Homo sapiens: one gene and its partners. The protein of the gene in region 1 purifies or fractionates together with the protein of each later gene. This does not show direct contact. Each region holds a gene or a part of one and is shown in the gene's direction. Other genes may lie near its edges.

Region 1 (3,500 bases):
CATCTATCCTATGTCACAGTCTAACTCAGTCACTCACTCAATCATTCATTGAACAGATATCTGCTGATCTCTTTCTACACGCTAGACACCAGAACACATACCTGAACTGTCCTCGCCTTCAGTTGGCTTGCAGCTGAACTCTTGCTTTGGGGCAGGGCTGCTCACCCTTTCCACATCTTGGCATGCATAGACGTGGATAATGTTTACACAGCAGCCTGAGGTAAGCTGGAAGAGACTGGAGGTGTCTATTGAGGCTTGGGGAAAAGAACTCATTACATTTCTTTGTATAATTATTGTAAGAAGAATACACAGTAAAACATTAGAGCCATTAAATATCAAACATGCATAAAATCTACAATTACAGTTTTTATGTTTTTTTTTCCCAGAAACACATAAGATACCTTTGTGAACTGTAACAGCTAACCCTTAAGTGATGCTGATGCCCAAGCATGACATCTCCTTTCATCCCTAGAGCAACCTATTAGCCTTATTTCCCAGATGAGGAAACGGGCACTCAAAGTAAGGAAATGATTTGCTGAAAGTTACACAGCTGCTAAGCAGCAGAGGGGAGGGGTGAACCTAGGTGTGTGGCCTCCCTATCTGCGCCCTGTACCACTGCGCCATCCTGCCATCTTTTGGAATAGCCACCTACGATTCTAGATAAGGACCCTTAAATGATGATCTTTATACATTCTTCTTTTAAAAAATATTTTATTCTATTTTTTTTTTTTTGAGACACATTCTTACTTTGTTGCCCAGCCTGCCCTACTTCCTGGACTCAAGCAATCCTCCTGCCTCAACCTCTTCAGTAGCTGGGATTACAGGCATGCGCCATCAACACCCAGCTATTTTTGTGTAGAGACGGGGTCTCACTGTGTTGCCCAGTCTGGCCTCAAACTCCCGGGCTCAAGCAGTCTTCCTGCCTCAGTCTCCCAAAGTGTTGGGATTATAGGCATGAGCCACCACATCCAGCTTGGTCTCCATACATGCTTAAGAAAGGAAGGTGAGTGGCCAAGCTCCTCGGCCAGGCTTCAGCTGCATCTCTCTGACACACTCCTCCCGCATCCTGGCTCCGACCTCTTGCCATTCCCCCGACTGTGCACTTGTCTTCACTCTGTGACTCTGCATGTACTTTGTGCCCAGAGGCCATGTATTTCTGATGGATTTAGAAGTGGATTCCCATTTCCTTCAGTGTTTAAAACATAGCTCTATGTATATGTACAGTAGCATCTTCTGAGATTTAATGTACAGATAGGAAGTACTTACTTGCTAAAGAAGGGTTGATGGACAGATAACAAGGGCAAGCCTCAAAGGACATGGGTTATTTGAAGGGTTTATTTATAAACAAGCCGGCTCATGAGTACGGTTCACTTTTAGGACTTGAAACTCCCTTCTGAACATGAGTCTTCACTTGTGGTCTCCTTGCTGATTTTTCTGAGTTCCTAGATTTGATGCACAATAAACATACACATCTTGAGTAGTGGGTGCTCCATAAACAGGGAGGGAATTTGAGAACATCCACATTGACCTAGTCTGTCCTGGAGCTGTCCCTTCCTTGGCAGTCAACAGGTACTGGGTTAATGAGCACAGGCTGGTGATTCACCCTGCAGGAGACAGAGCGTTGGTCACGTTTCAGATGAAGCAATTGAACGGTTAGTGCTGATGGAAAGGCTTGTGGTTAGAGTCAGCCCCAATTGGCACATTTTTTTAATGGGCGCCAAAAGCTCCAGGGTGATCCCACAAAGATGTGGTCTTATATCGTGTCTTCCTCCAAGCTGTTGAGTCTTCGTAGACGTGATCTCATCGCATAGCTCCCGAAGTAGGCGGTGGTGGGAGTCTTATCTCCTGTCCCAGGTGGGGTCAGGAAGCACTTCCCTTCTGAACCACCGCTGCCTTCTCTCTGCAACTCTTCCAGGTTGTAAACACTTGCCCTTTCTGGTAGTCCAGGCGCCACTTTAACAAACAGGTCTGTTCTTATTACCATTTTCCAATCTGTCACTTCATGTCCCATGTCCCACATGGGCAGGCAACATGGCCTGCCCATGTGGCGGCACCTCCCCAGGCCTTCCACCTCGTGCTCCTCTGCAGCCCCTTGCCTGTCCCTGCCATCTTGCCATGCCCACGCCTGCATTGCTAAGAACACAGTTTACAGCCTGTGTTTTTTGTGCTGCCATTCTGCTGGCATATGGCCAGGACTGGAAAGCTTGATTCAGTATTAGACCATCATATATGGACAATAAGTGCTTAATTTGTTCTAGGCACTGTGTTAAGGGGGCAGAAGCAACCATGAGTAACATGGATTCAGGCCCTGCCAGGTTCTTCTTGTCCTAAGGGAACCACAGACACACAGCTGAGTGCGATTCAGATCATGGGCACCACAATGCCCTATCCAGAGGTGGGGGACACTCAGTGCTGCATCTCTCTCTGCGGAGTGGCTCTGTGACCATGGCCAGGCTTCCTGCTGCAGAGCAGCCCTGCACGGCCTCCCCCACTGTCCGGGGTCTTTCTGTATCTCCACCCCCCCATTTTTTTTTTTTTTTTTTTTTTTTTTGGAGATGGAGTCACACTTTGTCGCCAGGCTGGAGTGCAGTGGCGTGATCTCGGCTCACTGCAGCCTCCACCTCCCAGGTTTCAAGCAATTCACCTGCCTCAGCCTCCTGAGTAGCTGGAACTACAGGCACACACCACCATACCCAGCTAATTTTTGTATTTTTAGCAGAGACGGGATTTCACCATGTTGGCCAGGATGGTCTCGATCTCTTGACCTCTTGATCCACCTGCCTCGGCCTCCCAAAGTGCTGGGATTACAGGCGTGAGCCACCACGCCCAGCCATCTCCACCCCTTTCTTCTCTGCTGTCTGGGTAACTGTGGACTCCTTTCCGGAGCTCCCCGTTCTACATTTTCAGTTTCCTCCTGCCTGGTTGCCCTCCTCGTTGACCTTCAGAGTGCTCAGCCTTTCTTCTTCTGCTGAAGCCCTTTTTGTGGCCTTTGCCTGTTTTTGCCCTTGTCCCACAGCCAGCCTCAACGGTGTTCTTTTCTCTCTGCTCACCCTCCCTGTTTGCCTACAGCTCTGCGGAGCTGTCCTGAAAGGTGAAGGGGGCGCCTTCATCAGAGCCTCACCGCCCCGCGCCACTGGGCTGCATCTCTTCGGTACCCTCCTGCCTATTCTGTCTCCCCCATCTGAGTGCCTCCAGCTCTGCACCCACAGCCGCCCCCAGCCTGACCTGCTGATGCCGTATGTCCCAGTTTGAAAGCTTCCTCGAATGCCTGCAGACAGGAGCAAAACCCTGGAGAGCCTGGCCCCCATCTGTGGGTCCATCCCCCCATCTCCACCTACCCTTGCGTGCTGCTGCCATGGGCCCATCTTTCCCCAGGCTTCTGCTCTGGCTGTCCCATCTGCCAGGAATGCCTTTTCTCTCCCAGGGCTCTCCACCTGCCCAAAGTCTGGAACAGCTAGCCATGCCACCACCTCATCTTTCGGGTGGAAGGAGGCTTTCTC
Region 2 (3,500 bases), on another chromosome or scaffold:
TTACTGCTGTCAGTCTACGCTTATTCTCCGTGAACGAGCAAGTGTCCCAAGGTCCTTTGAGGGACCAGGGTCTGAGGCACTGGGCTGCTGGATGTGTGCAGCTTATGGTAGCATTGTGTTTTGCTTCTCATGAGAACCTTGTGGGAGCCAGTTCTCACCCCATACTCAGCAGGCTGAGGTCAGGGTAGCTGTTTATGGCTTACTTTTTTTAAATTTATTTTTATTTATTTATTTGTTTATTTATTTATTTATTTTGAGACAAGGTCTTGCCTTGTTGCCCAGGCTGGAGTGCAGTGCACCCTAGACCTCCCGGACTCAAGGCATCTTCCTACCTCAGCCTCCTGAGTAGCTAGGACTACTTAAGAGGAAGCAGGGGAGGAAGGGGACGTGGAGGTGGGGGGTCCTCTCTAGGTTGCCCAGGCTGTTCTTCTGGGCTCAAGTGATCTTCCTGCCTCAGCCTCCCAAAGTGCTGGGATTACAGGTGTGAGCCACTGTGCCCGGCCTACTGGTTTATTTTTTAAAGCACATGGCACCATCTTACTGTGAACTATCTTTTCTCCTCAGCACATTCCCACATTTGGGAGTAATAGTTAGCTGGAAATACTGTGGGTCTTTTAATTTAAACTTTTGTTTAGTTGTAAATTTCAAGCTCATTGGACAACACAAACAGCAGTTTTATCTTGAGATGCAAGTTTATGCTGTGCATCAGAGCAACGGTATTAGCTGACGCTACTCATCCATTCAGCATATATTAAAATTTATTGAGCACCTATCTTGAGGCCATGCTCTATTCCAGGTCTTGGGGATACATAGTGAACAGGACAGACAGGAACCTCTGCCTCCCTGGAGCAGACAATGTAGTAGAAGGAGGCAGGGAGTGAATGAAGTAAATAAGCAAGTACTAGGGAGAGAATCAAGGTAGAGAAAGGGAATGGAGCCCTGGGGCTGGGGGTGGCAGAGAGATTTCCAGTTTTAAATTGGGTGATCAGGGAATGTCCCACCTAGAAGATGCATTTGAGCAAAGGCAGGCAGGAGACTGGACCATGTGTTTTCCCAGGGAAATGGTGTTCTTGGCAGAGCAGACAGCAAGCACAGAGTCCCTGTAGGCCTGGTCTGTGCTGGGCACTGTACTGAACACTTGATGCTGACTATTGAATTGACTGGTCACAGCATCCTTGGAAGCTGGTTCTGCCATTATGCCCATTTTACTGATGAGAAAACGGAAGCTCAGGGAGATTAAATTACTTACTGGCGGTGTCACAGGTCATATTGGGTACTGCTGGGACTTGAACCTGACAGTTCAGTTCAGCCTCAGGGCCCATGTGTCTAACCAGCATTGCCAAACAGTCTCCCAAGCAGAGATTTGGAAGCCTATTTTATTTATTTATTTTTATGGTTTTTTTTTAATTGAGATGAAATTCACATAATGTAAAATTAACCATTTTGAAGTGAACAATTCAGTGGTGTTTAATATTAATACATTCACAACGTTGTACAATGAACACCTCCGTCCAGTTCCAAAATGTTTTCGTCAACCCAAAAGGAAACCCCATACCCATAAAGCAATTGCTCCCTGTTTCCCCCATCCCCTCCCAGCTCCTGGCAACAACCAATGTGCATTCTGTCCCTATGGCATTTACCTATTCTGGAATTTCATTTAGAAACGGAATCGTGTATTTTATTCATTTTTTGTATAAACTTCACAGATAAGCAAGCACGCACAGTGAAAATCGAGCCTCTTTCCCTGGTCTGTCTAGTCAAGTGTTCTGGGTGTAATAAGCATGTGTGTGTTTCTGCCAGCCCCAGTGGTGGCATGCTGTTCCACTGCACAGCGTCTTGGCAGTGGCTCTACATCAGCATGTGTTCAGCTGGCTATACGTGGCTGCTGTGCAATGTGCCTAGGTCACCTAAGGTCACCTAAGCAGCCCTCACTGATGGGCCTTTGGAATGTACCCACCTACAAGGGGCAGGCGTAGCTGCAAGATGAGCTCCCAGGAGTGGGACTGTGGGGCTGCGTGGTTTGTGTCCTTTAGGTGTGGCTTGGTTGCTTCCTGCAGAGCTCATGCCAGGGCTGAGCTGCCAGCTATGTAGGAGAGGGTTTGCTCCACACCTGCTTTGGTGGCAGAGCTTCCATCTGCTCTTCTGCGACCTACCTTGGGGCAGAGGAGGAAGTCTTTCGGTCTGAAGATTGGCAGTCATTGCCTGGCCCTGTGTGGGGACCATGAAGAGACCACATGCTCCTCCAGACCACTCCTCCCTTGTCGGTAGCCTGAGGAGGCTGGACAGCTGAGGGGCTCCCTCCCACAGATACTTTTTCCTCCCCTACATCTGGTATTACTTGAAAGATTTTGTCTACCCAACACGCTACATTTGTTAAATAATGGTTAGATTCTACTTCCAAACAGAAGAATGTTTAATGGTGCAGGGCGCTTGGCAGTGAGAGTCAGAGTGACACAACTCCCCATGAGAGGTGATGTCACTCAGGCCAAAAGCAAAGCAAAGTAGATGTTTGGGTTAGCTTGGGCCCCTTCCTAGGTTGAACTGAAGGTGTCCCTTTGGGCATTTGACTTTGTGGGAAGAGCTTGTGAATCCCTGTTGCCACCTTTGTAAGCCCTTAGAGTCTCAAGATGCCCAGTTTCCAGTTACTGATTAACTTGGCACGGGAACTCTCCTGGCACTTTCCATGGCTGGTCTTTGTGGGTTTAGTAAAATAGGATCCTACAGAGGCGTGTCTCTTTCCCTACTCTGCTGGGCCTACTTCCTCCTCCAGCCATCCTCCCCACCCCCTGTCCCCGTTGCCTCTTTGTGTCTCTCTGTCCATGTTGTTGGGTTTTTGGTCTTCTAGGCGTTGCTCCTGGCCTACACCACCTAGTGCAGTGTGGCTTCTGTTTTAGCACCACTGCTGACACTGCAGAGGTGGGGTGCAGAGGGCACCGTGCCTTTGTTAGTTGTGCCCCACCGTCTCCTCCATGTGATCCACCTATCTTCCTCACACTGGTCCTCTTCTCCCTTTCTAAGGAAAAAGGACACAAGCCGGGTGTGGTGGCTCACACCTGTGATCCCAGCGACTCAAGAGACTGAGGCAGGAGAATTGCTTGAGCCCAGGAGTTTAAGACCAGCCTGGGCAACATAGTGAGACCCCATCTCTACAAAAAACACAAAAATTAGCCAGGCATGGTGGTGCACACCTGTAGTCCCAGCTACTTGGGAGGCTGAGGTGGGAAGATTGCTTGAGCCCAGGAGGCTGAGGCTGCAGTGAGATATGATCATGCCACTGCACTCCAGCCTGGGTGACAGAGGGAGACCCTGTCTCAAAACAAAAACAAAAACAAAAAACCCCACAAATAAACCACTTGTCATAGGCTGGGTTTCCTGGGAAGCTGACTGAGACAGAGTTGACCATACAAGGGCTTATTAAAAGGTGCTTTTGGGGTCCCCACCTGTGGAAGATGGAGAAGGAATCAGGAGTGGGTAGAGGAGAGCTGAGCTGCTGGGACCTG
Region 3 (3,500 bases), on another chromosome or scaffold:
CCAAAGTGCTGGGATTACAGAGTGTGAGCCACCACACCCGGCCAGCAATATAGTACTTTTTAGAAAGATTTGTAGATTAGAGTCCCAGTATACATTGCGGCTCCAACCCATGCCTGCTTTGGAAAACATATTTTCTCTGTGCTAGTATAGTCAAGACACATCAGCCTATATATCCTCATGTTCAGCAAGTGCATGTTAACTGCTTTTGAAATTATTATTACAATAAAGTCTGTTACTCAGGTGCTCTCATCAGATGTTCCTTCAGGAACAGAAACTGAGGAGGAAGATGACGGCATGAATGACATGAATCACGAGGTCATGTCATTAATATGGAGTGAAGATTTAAGGGTGCAGGATGTGCGAAGGCTTCTTCAGAGTGCGCATCCTGTCCGTGTCAACGTAGTGCAGTACCCAGAGCTCAGTGACCACGAGTTCATCGAGGAAAAGGAAAACAGGTGAAAGAAAACACGTGCACTATCTCTTGTCATGTTTCATTGTTACATTTGTGTCTTGTGTATATTTGTTTTTCCTTCAAGTTTTTAGCATTTAAAACCCTAAAGAGATTTAAAAGATACTTTCAAGTGAAAATATGCCCTGTGTTTTAAGTTTTCATCCAACTTCAACAAACCACGTGTGTTAGCAAAATGTCTTTGGCTTTTGAGGACGTAATTGTTGTATTTCATATCGTCCTCCTCTTGAAATACATATAACACTTTACTCTTTAGAAAAGGTGAATGTAAAACTATTTTGCCTGATAGTTACCTTAAGAATTTACAAACAAAGAAAACACTGGACTTGTTTTTCTGTGTCTTGATCAGGAATAGATTTTGAGGTTAGTGGGGTTTTTAGTGTAGTTTAAACTTGTATGAGTATTTTTTTTTTTTGGATATGATAGATGATACTCCAAATAAAAATAGATAAGCCTTTCTTCTGCCACTCCCCTGCACAGGATACATCCCTTGATACATTATAAGACTCACATGCCTATGACATTCCAGAGCTATTCTCTTGGGACACTTCTGTTTTAAAATTCTCTCCTGTTCTTTTATCTGCTTGTCTCTATCATCTATCATTCATCTGCCACTGTTTTCTAGTTCTCTTTACTTTTTTTATGGTACTGTTTTGAGGGGAACCATCACCCACACTTAGCCACAGGCTGCTGAAGATCTGAATTAGTTGTGATTTCCCTATTAACTGTTTCCTCTCCACATGTACCCAGTTATTAGTCACCTGTGAATAAAAAGATGGAGTGACAGAAGTTGAGTTTAGAGCATAGGATTTATGAGCATGGCCTCTAGAGCCAGGCATGGCCATGCTGTGCTGGGTGACTTTGGTTAAATTACTTTACCTCTTGTTGCCTCAGTTGCTTCATTTGTAAAAGTAGGCATACTTCATGGGATGGTGCTGTGTATCAAGTGAATTATTTTTACATAGCACTTAGAATACTGCTCAATACATAGTAAAGCTCAGTGCAGTCAGCCATTATTAGTAGTAGAGTTCATTGATTCTAAGATGCAAGTTTTTTCACTTTTTAATATCTCTGAAATCAGTTGTGTATTTCAGTGAACAGGTGTCATAGTTTAATTGGCAGTGCTTTTTCTTTCTTAGTTTCTCATGAAATAATGATACATCTTATCAGTGGCATCTTATATTCAGGGGATATAATATTGTTCTCATTATAATTTTGTTACTTGCGCAAAGTTGAAGTGAATTATGTGTAAGATTTCCTCTAAAAAAATTCTATGGGTTGCAACAGCCTCTTGGCTTTGAATTTTCCTGATCCCAAATTAATGTTGCGGTTGTGTTCCCAGAGAATCTTTAAGACAGCAAAATTTTTCTTTCCAGTTAGCTAGAAAAGCAGTTATGTGTGTCCAGTTAAGGAGGGAGTATGCTTATGAATAGCTTTGTCTGCAGAGAAAATGTTTGTCAGTTGTCAGCCTCTGAAGGGATATTTCTGTGTCTTCAGATATAGCTTGTATAGGCGTTTCTTAGTTATAAATGCCCTACTTCCAAAATTTCTGTTAGTTTTTTTTAAGTGGCTATATGGAATGTTAAGCTATTTTAACATAGGAAGAAGTTGAAGAGTGGTGTATTAATTTCACAGTAGAGCCAACAGAAACCATTTTAACCTTGAACATACCTGATACATAATGGTATTAGTCCTATAAATCTAGCCATCATGTAAGTGAAACCAATCTGTATTTCCCTTGGAGACACCATGAAATCCATTCACCTCTAACACAAGGACCTTGTTTCTTTTCTTGTGTACAGGCCACAGAAATGGTACTTCTGAGGCTGTATTGGCAAAAGGGATGGGAGGAGGATCCCACATGTACTGAGGACAGCTAGACTGAAATTAACACAGTGATAAAAACCCCAAAAGTACTGTATTTTCCTTTGAGAAGGTTAGCATCCATCGGAGTGGAATTTTAAATTTCTTTTTTTTTTTGAATGCCTAGAGAGAGTCGGCTGGGTTTATAGGCCAGGTGGTTTTCATTCAATGTAAATATGAAACAAAACAGAGGAAATATGTCTCTCCCTAAGAGTGTAATAGGAACAAGAATATTAAAATGAAAATAATCATGTTTGGGTAGTTCACTCACATCTGTGTATGAATTTACTTTGAGACAACTTCATCTTATACAGTACACCTTCTTTTGAAATACTTACAGATGATATTTCAATTGCTCTTTGCTTTAAACATTTTCATATGTTGGTTTTTACTTTAATTACAGATTGCTCCAATTGTGTCAGCGAACTATGGCTCTTCCTGTAGGACGAGGAATGTTTACCTTGTTTTCGTACCATCCTGTTCCAACAGAGCCATTGCCTATTCCTAAATTGAATCTGACTGGTATGTTAAATTCTGGGCTCAATGAGAAAGGAAAATGATTAAGTACATGCATTAAGTGTAGTTCTTTAAATTAGTTAAAACAAAAGAAATGCTCCCTCTATCCCCAGTGATTTAAAATTTTCCTAATAGCTGCTGTAGTGGTTATCAAAGCTCAAATGCCATGTGAAACTAAACTTTGAGAGAAGCAGAATATAGTTCATTACTCATTTTTGCTTTTTAATGAGGTGATTTTAAGATCTAAAAAGTCACTTGGAGAAGTTCAGAAAGATATTATTGATAACGATGAGACTTGAATTTTAAATAATCTTAAGTTTAATATGTAAAAATATTTAGTTTTAAAATGTCTTACGTCATAGTTTAAACAGATGATCATTGTATAAATCAAGAAATGTACTAAGCAAAAAGAGAAACAATGGTCGCTTGCAGTACTCCCACTCTTCTGCATCACTCCTTTTAACATTTTAGTATATATGTTTACTAAGTTTATTTCCACATATTTATAATTTTATATTTGTTTAATTATCAGAAAATTTATATCTATTTTAGATTTTTTTAAAAATTTACAGTGAACATCCTTTTATATCTAGCAAATAAATGTATGTGTTTATAATTATGTGTATGTATTGTATACACGTGTTTTTAATCA
Region 4 (3,500 bases), on another chromosome or scaffold:
TCATTCTAGTCGATATTTACTGACTGCTTCTGTGTGCTGGGTCTTTGTATGGCAAGTATATTTATTCAGTGGATGTTTATTAACTCAGTATTTTTGAGGTCCTGTGTGAAGGGTTTTCAGTAGTAGATTCTGTCCTCCAACAGACATTTAGCACCTCATAAAACTAAATGTCAGGTCATCCTGTGCTAATGGATATACATGGATTCATCTATTCATGATTATAGATATGCTGGGTGCCAGGCACTGGGTTGGTCACTAAGGATTCTGTGTTGAAGACAGACAGGGTCCCTGTTCTCATGAAGCTTATGTTCAAATGGAGGCACAGGGAATAAACCTGCAACCAAACAAGCACTACAAAGAAAATAAAACAGGGAATGTGATCCAGCCTTTCTGGTTAGAGGTGGGACTGCCAGGGCAGGTTGGGTTGTGAAAGAAGATGACATTTGAGGGTGTCTTGAATGGTGAGATGGAGCCAGCCTTGGGAAAAGCAAGAGCAAAATCTCTGAGGTCAGAGCAAGGGACTAGAAGGGGAGCCAGGAAGCCATGAGTCAGAGGTAGGGGGTTACCAGTGAGGCTGGAGAACTAGGCAAGAGTCCAGATCCTGAAAGGCCTGGTGGGCTGTGCTAAGGAGTTTGGATTTTATCCTAATTGCACTGGGGACCCATGTGACCGTTTGAAGCCAGGAATGATATGATCTGACTCCCATTCTGCATGGGGTCAGAAAGAACATTTTGGTGTTGGCCGGAATTTAAGTTGGAATCTTCAAAATAGAAGATGATGCTGACATTGACAGCTAAGATTTATTAGGAGAAAACCTTTTTATCTTTAGCAGCAACCACATAATAAATCATAATAGTTAACTTTTATTGGGGATATATTATGAGTTGGGTAATGTGCTTGATACATGGTGAAATCAGTTATTTCTATTCTGTCCATTTCACTGGTGAGGAATTGGAGATTCAGAGAGGTGATGTCACTTGCCTTAGGTCACCCAGCCAACAAGTGAGGAAGCAGGGATAGGAACCTGAGTGTTTCTGGCCCCGGAACCCAACCCCCTTATTGTCATGCCTTAGGCTGGGAGGCAGTTCAGCATGCACATTCATGCCAACTCCTGGTGCTTGGGGCCCCACCAACCCCATCTGGCTCTGGGTGTGAAGGTCAGGACTGAGTAGGATGCTCAGTAAACTCACCTGGGCCTTCTTGGCTTTCCTGGCCACAGTAAAAATAGCTCACAATAATCATAGCTATGATATATAGCGTACAGGTGTTTAGGATTTAGGTACTTCTCTGCATATTTACTCATTTAAGCCTTACAACACCTCTGGGAAGTGGGTGCTATTTTTAATCTCCTTTTTTTTTTTTTTTTGAGATGGAGTCTCACTCTGTCACCCAGGCTGGAGTGCAGTGGCACCATCTGGCTCACTGCAACCTCCACCTCCTGGGTTCAAGCGATTCTCCTGCGTCAGCCTCCCGAGTAGCTGGAATTACAGGTGCACATCACCATGCCTGGCTAATTTTTTTTTTTTGTATTTTTAGTAGAGGCGGGCTTTCACCATGTTGGCCAGGCTGGTCTCGAACTCCTGACCTCAGTTGATCCACCCACCTTGGCCTCCCAAAGTGCTGGGATTACAGGCGTGAACCACCAAGTCCAGCCCCTTTTATCCCCATCTTAAAGATGAAAAAAGTGAGGCACAGTGAGGTTAAAAGACTTGTCTGAGGTTAGTCCCACAGAGTGAAATGGCAAGACCAGGACTGGCACAAGGACCACCTGCTCAGAACGCACACTGTTATCCATGTGCTGAGTTCTGTCTACAAAAAGCTGGTGCTCCTGGCTCCAGGTGAGGCCAGCTAGAAGCAGCCAGACCCATGTCAGCTCTGTGGCTCCAGGCATGGGCAGGAGTGGTGCTGCTGTGCCCAGAATTATCCATGTGTGTACAAGGGCCAGTGGGAGCATGGTAGGGAAATGAGGTTTCCTTGTTAACGAAAGGCTTTGAGTGCCAGTGGTTTCCTTAGAAGAGGAGCCGAGAGATCCCTGGGTTTCCCTCATCAGGAAGGGAGTCTTGCTGAGTGCTCTCAAAATAAAAGCAAGCGCCCTACTATAGCAGGTGGCAAGCCTCAGAAAATTGTTCCCTGGAGAGGAGGGGGTGCAGGTGGAACCTCTAACAAGGCTCAAAGAGCATGCCTCTGATATCAATATTAAGCCAAGTCAGGACACTCAGACCCCAGCTATGTCCTGTGAAGTGACCCCCTCCTCTCCCCTCCCTAACAGTGTCTTTGGGGCTTGTGGGCCTCAGACAGCACATTAGGCTGGGCACACACAGGTCTCGGGATGGCATTTCCTTCATGCCATCTCCAGAAGCCTTCCCTGCAGCAAGCAATGCCAGGCAGAGCTTAGACGCTAAGCAGGTTATGTGATTAGTGCCGCTGTTCAGTCAGCAGACAAATTAATCTCCTTAAGTGGTTTAGTGGAGGGTGGAGATGCGTGGGTCTGAAAGCAGGAGGTCTCCGCGGGCTCAGCAGGCATGGGACGCAGGCTCAGCTTCCCCATCACCAGCACTTGCAGTCTCCCAGACCCGCCTTGTCACCCATCGCCGTCCCCGGCCTGCCATGCCCTGGACTCTGTGCCCCTCAATGCTGCGAGCCCTTGCCCTGCTCCGGTCTGCCCGCAGGTGCTCAGAGGTGTTAGCTGTGAGGTTGTAAGATCTGGATCTGGCCTTCCCCGCTGCAAGGAGGGCAGGAATTGTCTTATTCATCTTTGTAGTTCTGAACATGGCAATGGGCCTGGCACATCGTGAGTGATCATTACTTGGGCAAGGAAGGAATGTGCAGCACGTGTTGAGTGCTTAGTTATGAGCCTCAGATCAGAGACTTTCAAGGGCCCCTGTTAAGGTTAGGGAAGAGGAGGAGCTGAATTCGGAGTGGAAAGGGATAGGCAGTGGAAGAACGGGTGCTTAATCTCTCCCTTCTCTGTCCTGAGGGTCCAGGGGCTGTTATTTTGCCCCAGGTGGGTAGGGATGGATCTGTTAGGTTGATGCAAAAGTAATTGCAGTTTTTGCCATTGAAAGTATGGATATCTACAGTGATAGGAACAGTAGTGGCAATAAGGATAGTTGTAATGAGTTTTGCAGAGCACTTTGCCTGCCTGCACCAATCTCTATATTAAGGACTTCCCTTATAATGTCTCGCTGAGTCCTGTCAACAGCCCTATAAGTAGGTATTATTATCCAAGTTTTACAAATGAGGCATCTGAGGCTTAACAGGATTAAGTCAGTATCTCAAGGTCATGAAGCAGTGAGTGGTGGAGCCGGATTTGAATCCAGGCAGTTCGACTCAAGAGCCTGGGATGGTAAAACACAAAATCACATGTGACTCCTTCCATCACCCTAAAGCAAACTTTTTTTTAATTTTTTTTTTTTTTTTTTTTTTTTGCTTTAGCATTTAGAGGTGGTTGGAATTTGGTGGAACCGTCTGTCTTCCATAGAGAGTGTATCAAAATTGGG
Region 5 (3,500 bases), on another chromosome or scaffold:
TACGCTCTCAGCTCCTCCTCTGGTCCTCCAGTGCTGTTAGCCTTTGCCCAAGGGATCGTCTCTAGGGCAACTCCGAAGGATGCCTGTACTGATGACTGGGGAGACCACCACTGAGTGATCCACTTCCTCCCTATATCCTGTTTTGAATGAACAAAAAACAGGGCAGTCGGCAGCCCATAGGATTTTTGTATGAATTAGAATAAAGGCATCCTCTCCTCAAGATACTTTATTTCGATCTTTCAGAAATTGTCCTGATATACTGCCTTAGTTAAAACCAGACTCTTTACTGCCATTTGCTGGCATGCTGAATATTCATTTCTACAATGTGTATATTAGGAATGGTGTGTCTTAGGATTGTTCAGTGCACAATCTGCAATACTATCCAGGCAGTCCCTGGCCAATGCACCCTAACTAGACTGTGGTTTAGAATATGCCAGACCTAGGAGGCCCATTTCTGGGTCCTGCTTCTAGTACAGTGTTGGACACGTAACCATTGTTGAAAATAGTTTAAGACCAATTATATGCCAAGTCTACAAACCCATTATAAACCTGCAAAACTTGATGAAATACTTACTTTCTTGGAAAGAAAGAGTCTAACTAGGTCAGGCCAGCATTTCAGCCATCCTTGTGTTTGGTTTTCTTGGGGACATGTAGTGGCCCTTAGTGCTTGCTGCTTCAAGACTTCTCAGAGGACCTCCAGAAGGCACTGCTGTTTGTCCTCTCCTCTGAGCTCTCAGAACGCGTTGTCTTTACCCCCATAGGTGTACATGGCACACTCTAACGTGCAGACTCTCAGTCTGACACCCATACCACCACCAGCCTGGAGCAGATGTCAGGAATGAATGAATGATTAGTGCTGTATCAAAAATATATCTATAAACCTGTCCATAATCCATTAGGTGCTTATTATCCACAAATTTATTAAACCAAAAAGAGGTTAGCGTTCATGTCTTAAAGATGATGTTCTGTAATGTGATGTTAAGGAATGGAACGAGTGAATTTTTTTGAGAGGAGAGCAGATAAGTTTGATATGTGTTATTTGTGCCCTTGGGAGATATATTTTCTCACTGTACACACTTTTTTTTTTTTTTTTTGAGATAGAGTTTTGCTCTTGTTGCCCAGCTGTAGTGCAATGGTGCGACTGGCTCACTGCAACCTCCACCTCCTGGGTTCAAGCAATTCTCCTGCCTCAGCCTCTCAAGTAGCTGGGATTATAGGCATGTGCCACCATGCCCAGCTAATTTTGTATTTTTAATAGAGATGAGTTTTCTCCGTGTTGGTCAGATTGGTCTCAAACTTCTGACCTCAGGTGATCCGCCCACCTCGGCCTCCCAAAGTGCTAGGATTGCAGGCATGAACCACCGCACCTGGCCTCACTGTACAAATTTAACTAGAATATGATTCCTTTCTCAGCCATGTGAGGGTAAGGTGGGACAAACAGCTTACCTGATGACATAAACTCTCCTTATGTTTTGACTGATAAAGGAGAATATATTGATTAGAGGTGATCCTGCATTTTGATATTTAAACTTCTCTGTCCCTCTTGCCCATGTATCCTAAACTTACCACTATGAATTCCAATAAAATCAAAATCCAGTATTTTCTAAACTTTTCTTTTCTTTTTTGAGACAGAGTTTCACTCTGTTGCTCAGGCTGGAATGCAGTGGCACGATCTCGGCTCACTGCAACCTCCACATCCCGGGTTCAAGTGATTCTCCTGCCTCAGCCTCCTGAGTAGCTGAGATTACAGGCACATGCCACCATGCCTGGCTAATTTTTTTTCCGTATTTTTAGTAGAGACAGGGTTTCACCATGTTGCCCAGGCTGATTTCAAACTCCTGACCTCAGGTGATCCACCCGCCTCGGCCTCCCAAAGTGCTGGGATTACAGGTGTGAGCCACCGTGTCTGGCATAAACTTTTCAACTCTGAATCGGTTGCCAGAAAAAGAAAAGAGTTTAGTGGTATAGATAAACCATATTTCCATAAAGAAACAGAACAAAATATGCCACCAAAAAGTGGCTGCTGCTAAAACAGACAGCATGTTCACTCACGCAGCTGGCAAAGCGCTTGGGATAGTGATTATCTTTGGCTTGTCTGTTAATGATGTTGAACCTCAGTGTTCAGAACGGGAATCAGAACAACCTAGGTTGGCTTAAAACGTTAGTACCATTAAAGTCATATTTATGTAAGACTCGGTACTAATTTGTCATAGAAAATAGCATGCCTGTTTCTATTCATAGGAACTAGAGGTCTTTTTCCAGTACTGGGTTCATTTTGGCCAATGTGGAGCATCTCTGATGGTTGAAGGAAGACCTTCCTGGGTTTCTGGAATTACGTTTTCATGTAGTTTCTGTATAAAAATTAGCTTCTCTGTAAACTACGTTAGTTTCTATGTAAGCTACGTGAAAACATAATCCTTTTCTTACAGTGATATACAGGAGATGCATACTCAAAAGTCATTTTCCTTTCAGTAATTTCAGATGTTTGGGTGGTAAATTGAAATATCATATTGGCAGTTTCAAAAATAACTAGAAAGAGAAACAATCTGTTGGGCTATTTGAATTCTTTATGACTGAATGAAGTCAAAACATGATCAGGACTTTTAGGAGTTAGCTGGTTAATAGAGTATGGTGGTTATGAACATGTTCTTAAGTTGCATATCTTGAGTTTGAGCTCTGGTTACACCAGTCACTGGCTATGCTCCTTTGGGAGAGGAAACTTAAACTCTCTGCGCTTTGGCTTCCTTGTCTATAAAACAGGAATAAAAACAGTATTTATGTGTGAGTTTCTGTGAGGTTTAAATGAGATTATATATGTAAACACACTTAGAAGAGTGCCTGATGGTTAGAAGGTGCTTATTTATATATATATAAGCTATTACCAAAAATGTTCAACAAATTTTGTGAAAGTCTTTAAGATCTTGCTACATTCAAAAGTTATACAAGAAACCCTGGAAAACACAAAAATAAAAAAGAATGGACAGGCTTCCAGTTTCCATTCCAGTGTGTAAGAAGCTTAGAAGTCTCCACTCCATTGTAACAACAGTAAAAAGCCAAACAAACTGAAATATAATCAAGAACTCTTTTTAGATTTGTTGAAACTGAGGTCACAGGGCAAATTGCTGCCCTCCAAAATTAGAGAGAGAGATGAATATAGGGAGTCAAAACTTAACAGGAGCAAACCTGTAAGTAGAACCCTCCATGGAAACAAATGGTGAGGAAGGGAAACCTGAACAGTAATTGGTAAATTACTAGAGGCTCCATAGGGACAAGTCTGAGAGTTTAAAACACCATGGGTGGGGAGAGGACTCAGCCAAAGGTCACTTGTAAATGACCTTTATTATGTTGAGGGACTTTTCTTGTATACCCAGACTGTTGAGTGTTTTTATCAAGAAAGGATGTTGGATTTTGTTGAATACTTTTTGTGTCAATTGAGATGATCATGTGGTTTTGTCTTTCAGTCTGTGATGTGTCACTTTGATTAACGTACCTATGTTAAA
Region 6 (3,500 bases), on another chromosome or scaffold:
AGCCTAGAACCCTAGAGTAGCAGGGCATCTTGTGCCCTTTTCCATTTTGGTTTGTCTTTGGTTCTCTAACCACCTGGCTCTTGTGTCTCCCCATCCCTGTCTTTTCACTTCGTCACTCTGCCTTGCTCACTGTAGCACCCCTAGCACCCAGTACACAGAGTACACAGTGGGTACCTGCTACTGCAGGTGCCCTTGTGGCCCTCGCCCTGTCTTCATTCATCTCCTCCCTTATGTCCCCACCCAGGTGCTCCAGGAACTGATTTTCTTCCTGCACCGCCTGACCTCAGTGAGCAGGGACTATGCCGTGGTGCTGAATCAGCTGGGAGCAAGAGACGCTATCTCCAAGGCCCTGGAAAAGCACCTGGGAAAGCTGGAGCTGGCTCAGGAGCTGCGGGACATGGTGTTCAAGTGTGAGAAGCATGCCCACCTCTACCGCAAACTCATCACCAACATCCTGGGAGGCTGCATCCAGGTCAGGAGGAAGGGGAGCTTGTGGGCTTAGAGTGGCATCAGAATATGAAACCCAAGCAGTGGCGGGTAAGGGCTGTGTTCCCATGGCTGGGAACAGCAGGTGACTCTAGTGACCCTGGGGCATTTGTTCCCCTTCCCCTCTGCCCCATCTGGGCCTGCTCTGCTGGTGCTGTAGAGGAAGTCCCACTGCTGCATGGTCTCTCCTTCATCCGTGTTTCCGTGTGTGTCTCCGTGTTCCTTCTGCCCCTGTGCCCCTTCTCTCTGATGTTCTGGCTGCAGATGGTGCTGGGCCAGATCGAAGACCACAGACGAACCCACCAACCCATCAACATCCCTTTCTTTGATGTGTTCCTCAGATACCTGTGCCAGGGTTCGTGCCTGTTGCCGTGTTGCTCCACCTCCCCACACCTATGTCTGTTTCCCCTCTACACCCTACCTGACCGTGACCACCACCCCTTCCCACTTGCCCCCAGGCTCCAGTGTGGAAGTGAAGGAGGACAAGTGCTGGGAGAAGGTGGAGGTGTCCTCCAACCCGCACCGGGCCAGCAAGCTGACGGACCACAACCCCAAGACCTATTGGGAGTCCAACGGCAGCGCCGGCTCCCACTACATCACCCTGCACATGCGCCGGGGCATCCTCATCAGGTAACTCTCCCACACATGTGCTTTGCCACACACGTGTGCTTTCCTGTGACGCCCCTGTGTTTGTTTTGGGGGAAGCACCACCCCCTGGACTTGGCCATGGGCCCTGTCTACAAGTTCCAAATGGTTTTTCCTCCCCACTCCCAGGCAACTGACTCTGCTTGTGGCTAGTGAGGACTCGAGTTACATGCCGGCCCGAGTGGTGGTGTGCGGGGGTGATAGCACTAGCTCTCTTCACACGGAACTCAACTCGGTAGGACCCCAGGGCCATTAGCCATTACTCCACCCCTCACAGGATCTGCCCTCCTGCTTCTATCTGGCCCTATCCTACTTTTTTCTAACTCCCACCTGTCTTGAGCCCCACAGAAAGTAGTGTCCTTTATCCCTGTGCTTGTGCCACCAGGCCCTGAACAATGAGGGTGGCATGAGGACAGCTTTGTCAGGACCCTACACATCCCAGGGCTGGGGAAGGGAGGGAAACAGTGAGGGGACTGGAGCCTAGAGCCAACTTGGCTCTGCATGTGTGGAGGTGACAGCTTTCTCTGCCCCCTGCCAGGTGAATGTGATGCCCTCTGCCAGCCGGGTGATCCTCCTGGAGAACCTGACCCGCTTCTGGCCCATCATCCAGATCCGCATAAAGCGCTGCCAGCAGGTGGGGCCAGGGATGTGGGGTGTGGCCCTGGGTAGGGGGCTCTGAGCCCCATAAACAGGCAGATCTTAAGCCAGAGGACCAGCCTGGGTCTCGAGCAGCTCCAGGGGTGAGGTTCGAGGGCGTAGCTGACCCCAGCCCATCCCAAGGTGTGGAGCGAGTGAAGATAGTCCTGTGTGTGTTTCAGGGTGGCATTGATACGCGCATTCGGGGGTTAGAGATCCTAGGCCCCAAGCCCACGTTCTGGCCAGTGTTCCGGGAGCAGCTCTGTCGTCACACACGCCTCTTCTACATGGTTCGGGCACAGGCCTGGAGCCAGGACATGGCAGAGGACCGCAGGAGCCTCCTGCACCTGAGTTCTAGGTGTGTGAGAGTGTGCGTGTATGCTTGTGTCTGTGGGAAAGGTAAGGCTATTGCAAATAGCTGGCAGGCAGGGGTCCATAGAAGCTGTGAGATGGAGGTTTAATATGCGTGGGGAGGGGGCTGGAGTTTTCTGAGCTGTGGGAGGGGAAGAAAGGATAAAGAGAAAAGATTTCTCCAGTGGGCTGGGAATGGGATATACCAGTTAGCACAGAGCAGTTCTGAAGTACCAGGGGGCCTTCGGTTTGGGTGCTGGGGTTAGCTGGCAGTCTTAGGAAGGGTGGACACTGAGATAACATATGCTTCAAGCCCCTGACACCTTCCTCCTCCATTCTCACCCCCAGACTCAACGGTGCTCTGCGCCAGGAGCAGAATTTTGCTGACCGCTTCCTCCCTGATGACGAGGCTGCCCAAGCTCTGGGCAAGACCTGCTGGGAGGCCCTGGTCAGCCCCGTGGTGCAGAACATCACCTCCCCTGGTAACCATCCTGACATCTGGACCCATTACTATCTCAGGGCTTGGTTCCACTAATTAGTTCCTTCTTGCTCTACCCTAGAACCACCTGGATTATGTCCTGGCCCTTTTGGCACCTGCATTTGTAATCCCAGTGCTGTCTTCTCACAGCCCAGGGGCTGCCCCCTTTCCCATGTCTCTCAAGTGTCAGGGGACACCATAAGTGCTGGAGGTGCCTTGTTACCCACTCCCTTTATCATTCTTCTTTTTTTTTTTTTTGAGACAGATTTTCGCTCGTTACCCACGCTGGAGTGCAATGGCATGATCTTGGCTCACTGCAACCTCTGCCTCCCAGGTTCAGGCAATTCTCCTGCCTCAGCCTCCCAAGTAGCTGGGATTACAGGCATGCACCACCATGCCTGGCTAATTTTATTTTATTTTATTTTATTTTTTTGAGACAGAGTTTCGCTCTTGTTGCCTAGACTGGAGTGCAATGGCGCAGTCTCGGCTCACTGCAACCTCTGCCTCCAGGGTTCAAGTGATTCTTCTGCCTCACCCTCCCAAATAGCTGGGATTACAGGCATGGGCCACCATGCCCAGCTAATTTTGTATTTTTAGTAGAGATGGGGTTTCTCCATGTTGGTCAGGCTGGTCTCGAACTCCCAATCTCAGGTGATCCACCCGCCTCAGTCTCCCAAAGTGCTGGGATTACAGGCATGAGCCACCGCGCCTGACCCACACCTGGCTAATTTTATATTTTTAGTAGAGGTGGGGTTTCTCCGTGTTGGTCAGGCTGATCTCGAACTCCCGACCTCAGGTGATCCACCCACCTCAGCCTCCCAAAGTGCTGGGATTACAGGCATGAGCCACCGCACCTGGCCTTTTCTATTTTTTTATGCTTATTTCTTATTTTTAAAGATGGGGT
Region 7 (3,500 bases), on another chromosome or scaffold:
GGACCCCTTTATTGTCAGTATCACTGATGGCTTCCTATAAGTACATCTGTTAGGAAAAAGAACTTTCAGTAGTTAATGGAAATTAGAATGCAACTGTCGGCCAGGCACAGTGGCTGACACCTGTAATCCCAGCACTTTGGGAGGCCCAGGCAGGTGAATCACGAGGTCAAGAGATTGAGACCATCCTGGCCAACATGGTGAAACCTTGTCTCTACTAAAAAATACAAAATTAGTTGGCATGGTGGGACCTGTAGTCCCAGCTACTCAGGAGGCTGAGACAGGGGAATCACTTGAACCCAGGAGGCAGAGGTTGCAGTGAGTCGAGATCGTGCCACTGCATTCCAGCCTTGCAACAGGGCGAGATACCATCTCAAAAAAGAGAAAAGAATGCAACCCTCTTTAAGCAAGTTGACATATCACAGCCTCTGGTTGAGAAAGCATGCGTTAAAGTTCTTGCCAAGCAGCCATGCTGGGAAATACAAGGTGTCATTAGAGAGTGGCCCCACTTTATTACCCTAAACTGCCTCCCAGAATTCTGGGAGCATTTCCCCCACTGGACTGTCCTATAGGATACCAGCTCTTCCTTTGCACTAGCCCCAAAGTCTCAAAGGGAAATTCTACTGTAAAAACAAAAAACTAGCACCTCTTTACTATAAGACATAGTTGACTGTGGAATCTGGAATGCTCTGTGAAGGGTACTCTCTGACATCCCCTAAAACCAGTGTGTTCACCAAGGGACTCCCATACCACTGAGGCCTATCCTCAGTCCCTGGCTGATGCTGGCACACTACCTCTCTGGCCACATACCTGTCTTGCAGAAATGCCCCAGTGATGACTGCCAGACTCACCTCTGCTAGTAGAAATGGGCCTAAGTCTCTCTGTGGACTGTATCCGTGAAATTTCTTTGCTACCACTCATCCATACCAGCTGATACCTCACAAGGAGCTGATACCTCATTAGCTAACTACAGCTAAGGCTCCTCATCTGGACTCAGCCCTGGATGGTTTCACAGAATCCATGAATCCTAAAAATTGTGTGCAATATTCTGTGTGTTTATGTCTGGAGAAAGTTTACTTAACTTTTGTAAGAGGTAGGATGATCAGGTCAGTGTCACTCACTCTTTGCTCTAACAAGGCAACTAGCCCTCCTCCTGGATGGTTTACGTTTTCCTCCCCAGACAGGCATGTGGGAAAAAGACTCTGTTCTCAGCAGTCTCTACCACAGCTGCCCAGGGGCTGGCAGGAGCTCTGGTCTTCTCCAGGTTCTTAGCACCAAGCACTTAGAGCTCTCAGAACAATTCCAAGGCCAGAGTAGGATGTGGCCAGAGGAGCTGCCCAGCCTCAGCCTGATCAGATGAAGCAAGTGCTTCCTTACAGAGGTGGCTGAAGACCCTGTTCTCCACGGTGGGGGGTGCCATGTGGCCCTGGCCACTTAACTCAGTTCTCTTTGCTTTATTTGTTTGTTTGCGACGGAGTCTCACTCTGTTGCCCAGGCTGGAGTGAAGTGGTGCAATCTCGGCTGACTGCAGCCTCCGCCTCCCAGGCTCAAGAAAGTCTCTTGCCTCAGCCTCCTGGGTAGCTGGGACTACAGGCACCTGCCACCATGCCCGGCTAATTTTTGTATTTATAGTAGAGATGGGGTTTCACCATGTTGGTCAGGCTGGTATCGAACTCCTGACCTCAGGTGATCCACCCACCTCAGCCTCCCAAATTGCTGAGATTACAGGCGTGAGCCACCATACCTGGCCAACTCAGTTCTCTTTGCTAATGGTGCTAAGGAAGCCATATAGTTTAGTTGCTAAAATCCAGTGGTTTGTTCTGGAGTCAAACCACCTCAGTCTGGCTCCCATCCCTGTTATTTATAAGCTGTGTGACTTCGGGGAGTCATCAGCCTCTCTGGGCTTCAGTGCCCTTATCTGTAAAGTAGGGGATAAAACAGGCACTTAATTCACTGCAGTGTTGTGAAGATGAAACAGCATAGGCCTTCTAAAATGATGAACACAGTGCTTAGCACAGAAGGAGTGCTTGTGAATGCTAACATCACTGTTGCTATTACTGTTTGTCTCCTTTGATCCACTGCTCTCCCTTTGATCTGCAGGTGGCAGCTTTGGCTATCGCAAGTGGCAATGGCTTGTTACTCAAAGGAGGGAAGGAGGCTGCACACAGCAACCGGATTCTCCACCTCCTGACCCAGGAGGCTCTCTCAATCCATGGAGTCAAGGAGGCCGTGCAACTGGTAGGTCCCTGGGAATGCACCAAGTCAGGCCCAGAGGGGCCAGATCAGGTGTTTGGGAATTTAAAGCAAAACTTAGGCCACACAGAGCCAAGACACTACTACAAGCAGACTTGACACTCCAGCAGGCCTGTGAGCCTTCAGACTTTAGGCCATTCTGCAGAGCCAGATGGGTCCTCAGTGGCTTAGGAAGGCCCCTCCCTTACAGCTGCGTCTTGGCACTATTTATTTACAAGAATGTCAATTAGACCTTCATTCTTTGGGTCACAAGGCAGCAGGAGTACCAGAACTAGAGTGTGAGGCCTAGGTTCCTGTCATTGGCAGAGTGATCTAGGGTAAGTCAGATGAGAAACTTTACAAAAGTTTGTCATAAACTGTCATGCGGTGTGTTGAGTATGAGATCATGCTGTTATCACTATTATTATTAAGGTCATCACTTTAACTGACCATTTCTCATTCTCCTCAACTGTCAAATGAAGTTTGATAATAATAGCTACTACTTGTTGAGTACCTACTATGTGCAAGGCTCATTTTATCCGTTAACTCATTTGATCGTCACAGCAGTCCCATAAGGAAAATATCATTAATTATTAGACTCATTTTCTACATTGGGAAAAAACAGATTCAGAGGTAAAGTAATTCCCCAAGAGTCACATGGTGTGTGATAGAGTTTAGATTTGGACCTAGGCTGACTCCAGATCCTTTTTTTTCTTTGGCTCATTTGCTCCAACATTCCAGGATTCTGTTGGCTACTGGGAGGATGTCTACAAACCTGCTCATTACACACTCAGTGACCAGAATCTGGTTTTTTTCTTATGCCCACATAGTGGTTGGAAAGAGCGCAGATTTTAGGGATTCAAATCCCAGCCCCACCACTTCCTAGCTTACACAGGTGCCCTCCCTCCTTTTCTTCCTATTGATGTGTAACATACGTACAGTAAAGTATACAGATCCTGTGAACCACTCTGCGACTGTTCACACACACACATGTATAACCACCAGCCGTATCAAGATACAGAACAGTCCAACATCCTGGAGGGCCCCCTTGTGCCCTTCCCAGTCAATATGTAGCCCCCTTCCCCACAAACTACTTTTTTGACTTCTGTCACATTAAATTACTTTTGCCTTTTTTTTTTTTTTTGAGACATGGTCTTGCTCTGTTGCCCAGACTGGAATTCAGTGGCACAATCTTGGCTCTCGGCTCACTGCAGCCTCAGCCTCCTAGGCTCAAGCAGTCCACCCACCTCAGCTTTCCTAGTAGTTGGGAC

The links.
Region 2: the proteins of LATS2 (region 1) and LIMD1 purify together in Homo sapiens (affinity purification with mass spectrometry; 3 studies listed by BioGRID and IntAct, with this or other methods). This does not show direct contact.
Region 3: the proteins of LATS2 (region 1) and ANAPC1 purify together in Homo sapiens (affinity purification with mass spectrometry; 3 studies listed by BioGRID and IntAct, with this or other methods). This does not show direct contact.
Region 4: the proteins of LATS2 (region 1) and WWC1 purify together in Homo sapiens (affinity purification with western blotting; 2 studies listed by BioGRID). This does not show direct contact.
Region 5: the proteins of LATS2 (region 1) and CPVL purify together in Homo sapiens (affinity purification with mass spectrometry; 2 studies listed by BioGRID and IntAct, with this or other methods). This does not show direct contact.
Region 6: the proteins of LATS2 (region 1) and CUL7 purify together in Homo sapiens (affinity purification with western blotting; 2 studies listed by BioGRID, with this or other methods). This does not show direct contact.
Region 7: the proteins of LATS2 (region 1) and ALDH18A1 purify together in Homo sapiens (affinity purification with mass spectrometry, with the first as the bait; one large-scale study listed by BioGRID). This does not show direct contact.

The regions. Positions count from the first base shown.
Region 1 is NC_000013.11:20,992,087-20,995,586, reverse strand, and holds part of LATS2 (serine/threonine-protein kinase LATS2), read left to right. Parts: intron 1-386; exon of another isoform or gene 387-498; coding exon of another isoform or gene 499-519; intron 520-3,500. UniProt on the Homo sapiens protein: Negative regulator of YAP1 in the Hippo signaling pathway that plays a pivotal role in organ size control and tumor suppression by restricting proliferation and promoting apoptosis.
Region 2 is NC_000003.12:45,597,751-45,601,250, forward strand, and holds part of LIMD1 (LIM domain-containing protein 1), read left to right. Parts: intron 1-3,500. UniProt on the Homo sapiens protein: Adapter or scaffold protein which participates in the assembly of numerous protein complexes and is involved in several cellular processes such as cell fate determination, cytoskeletal organization, repression of gene transcription, cell-cell adhesion, cell differentiation, proliferation and migration.
Region 3 is NC_000002.12:111,818,194-111,821,693, reverse strand, and holds part of ANAPC1 (anaphase-promoting complex subunit 1), read left to right. Parts: intron 1-228; coding exon of another isoform or gene 229-240; coding exon 241-455; intron 456-2,271; coding exon of another isoform or gene 2,272-2,293; exon of another isoform or gene 2,294-2,405; intron 2,406-2,735; coding exon 2,736-2,854; intron 2,855-3,500. UniProt on the Homo sapiens protein: Component of the anaphase promoting complex/cyclosome (APC/C), a cell cycle-regulated E3 ubiquitin ligase that controls progression through mitosis and the G1 phase of the cell cycle.
Region 4 is NC_000005.10:168,424,145-168,427,644, forward strand, and holds part of WWC1 (protein KIBRA), read left to right. Parts: intron 1-3,500. UniProt on the Homo sapiens protein: Regulator of the Hippo signaling pathway, also known as the Salvador-Warts-Hippo (SWH) pathway.
Region 5 is NC_000007.14:29,059,538-29,063,037, reverse strand, and holds part of CPVL (probable serine carboxypeptidase CPVL isoform b precursor), read left to right. Parts: intron 1-3,500. UniProt on the Homo sapiens protein: May be involved in the digestion of phagocytosed particles in the lysosome, participation in an inflammatory protease cascade, and trimming of peptides for antigen presentation.
Region 6 is NC_000006.12:43,043,852-43,047,351, reverse strand, and holds part of CUL7 (cullin-7), read left to right. Parts: intron 1-244; coding exon 245-472; intron 473-750; coding exon 751-841; intron 842-944; coding exon 945-1,116; intron 1,117-1,260; coding exon 1,261-1,366; intron 1,367-1,669; coding exon 1,670-1,765; intron 1,766-1,949; coding exon 1,950-2,125; intron 2,126-2,205; exon of another isoform or gene 2,206-2,466; coding exon 2,467-2,600; exon of another isoform or gene 2,601-3,500. UniProt on the Homo sapiens protein: Core component of the 3M and Cul7-RING(FBXW8) complexes, which mediate the ubiquitination and subsequent proteasomal degradation of target proteins. Core component of the 3M complex, a complex required to regulate microtubule dynamics and genome integrity.
Region 7 is NC_000010.11:95,615,212-95,618,711, reverse strand, and holds part of ALDH18A1 (delta-1-pyrroline-5-carboxylate synthase), read left to right. Parts: intron 1-2,097; coding exon 2,098-2,235; intron 2,236-3,500. UniProt on the Homo sapiens protein: Bifunctional enzyme that converts glutamate to glutamate 5-semialdehyde, an intermediate in the biosynthesis of proline, ornithine and arginine.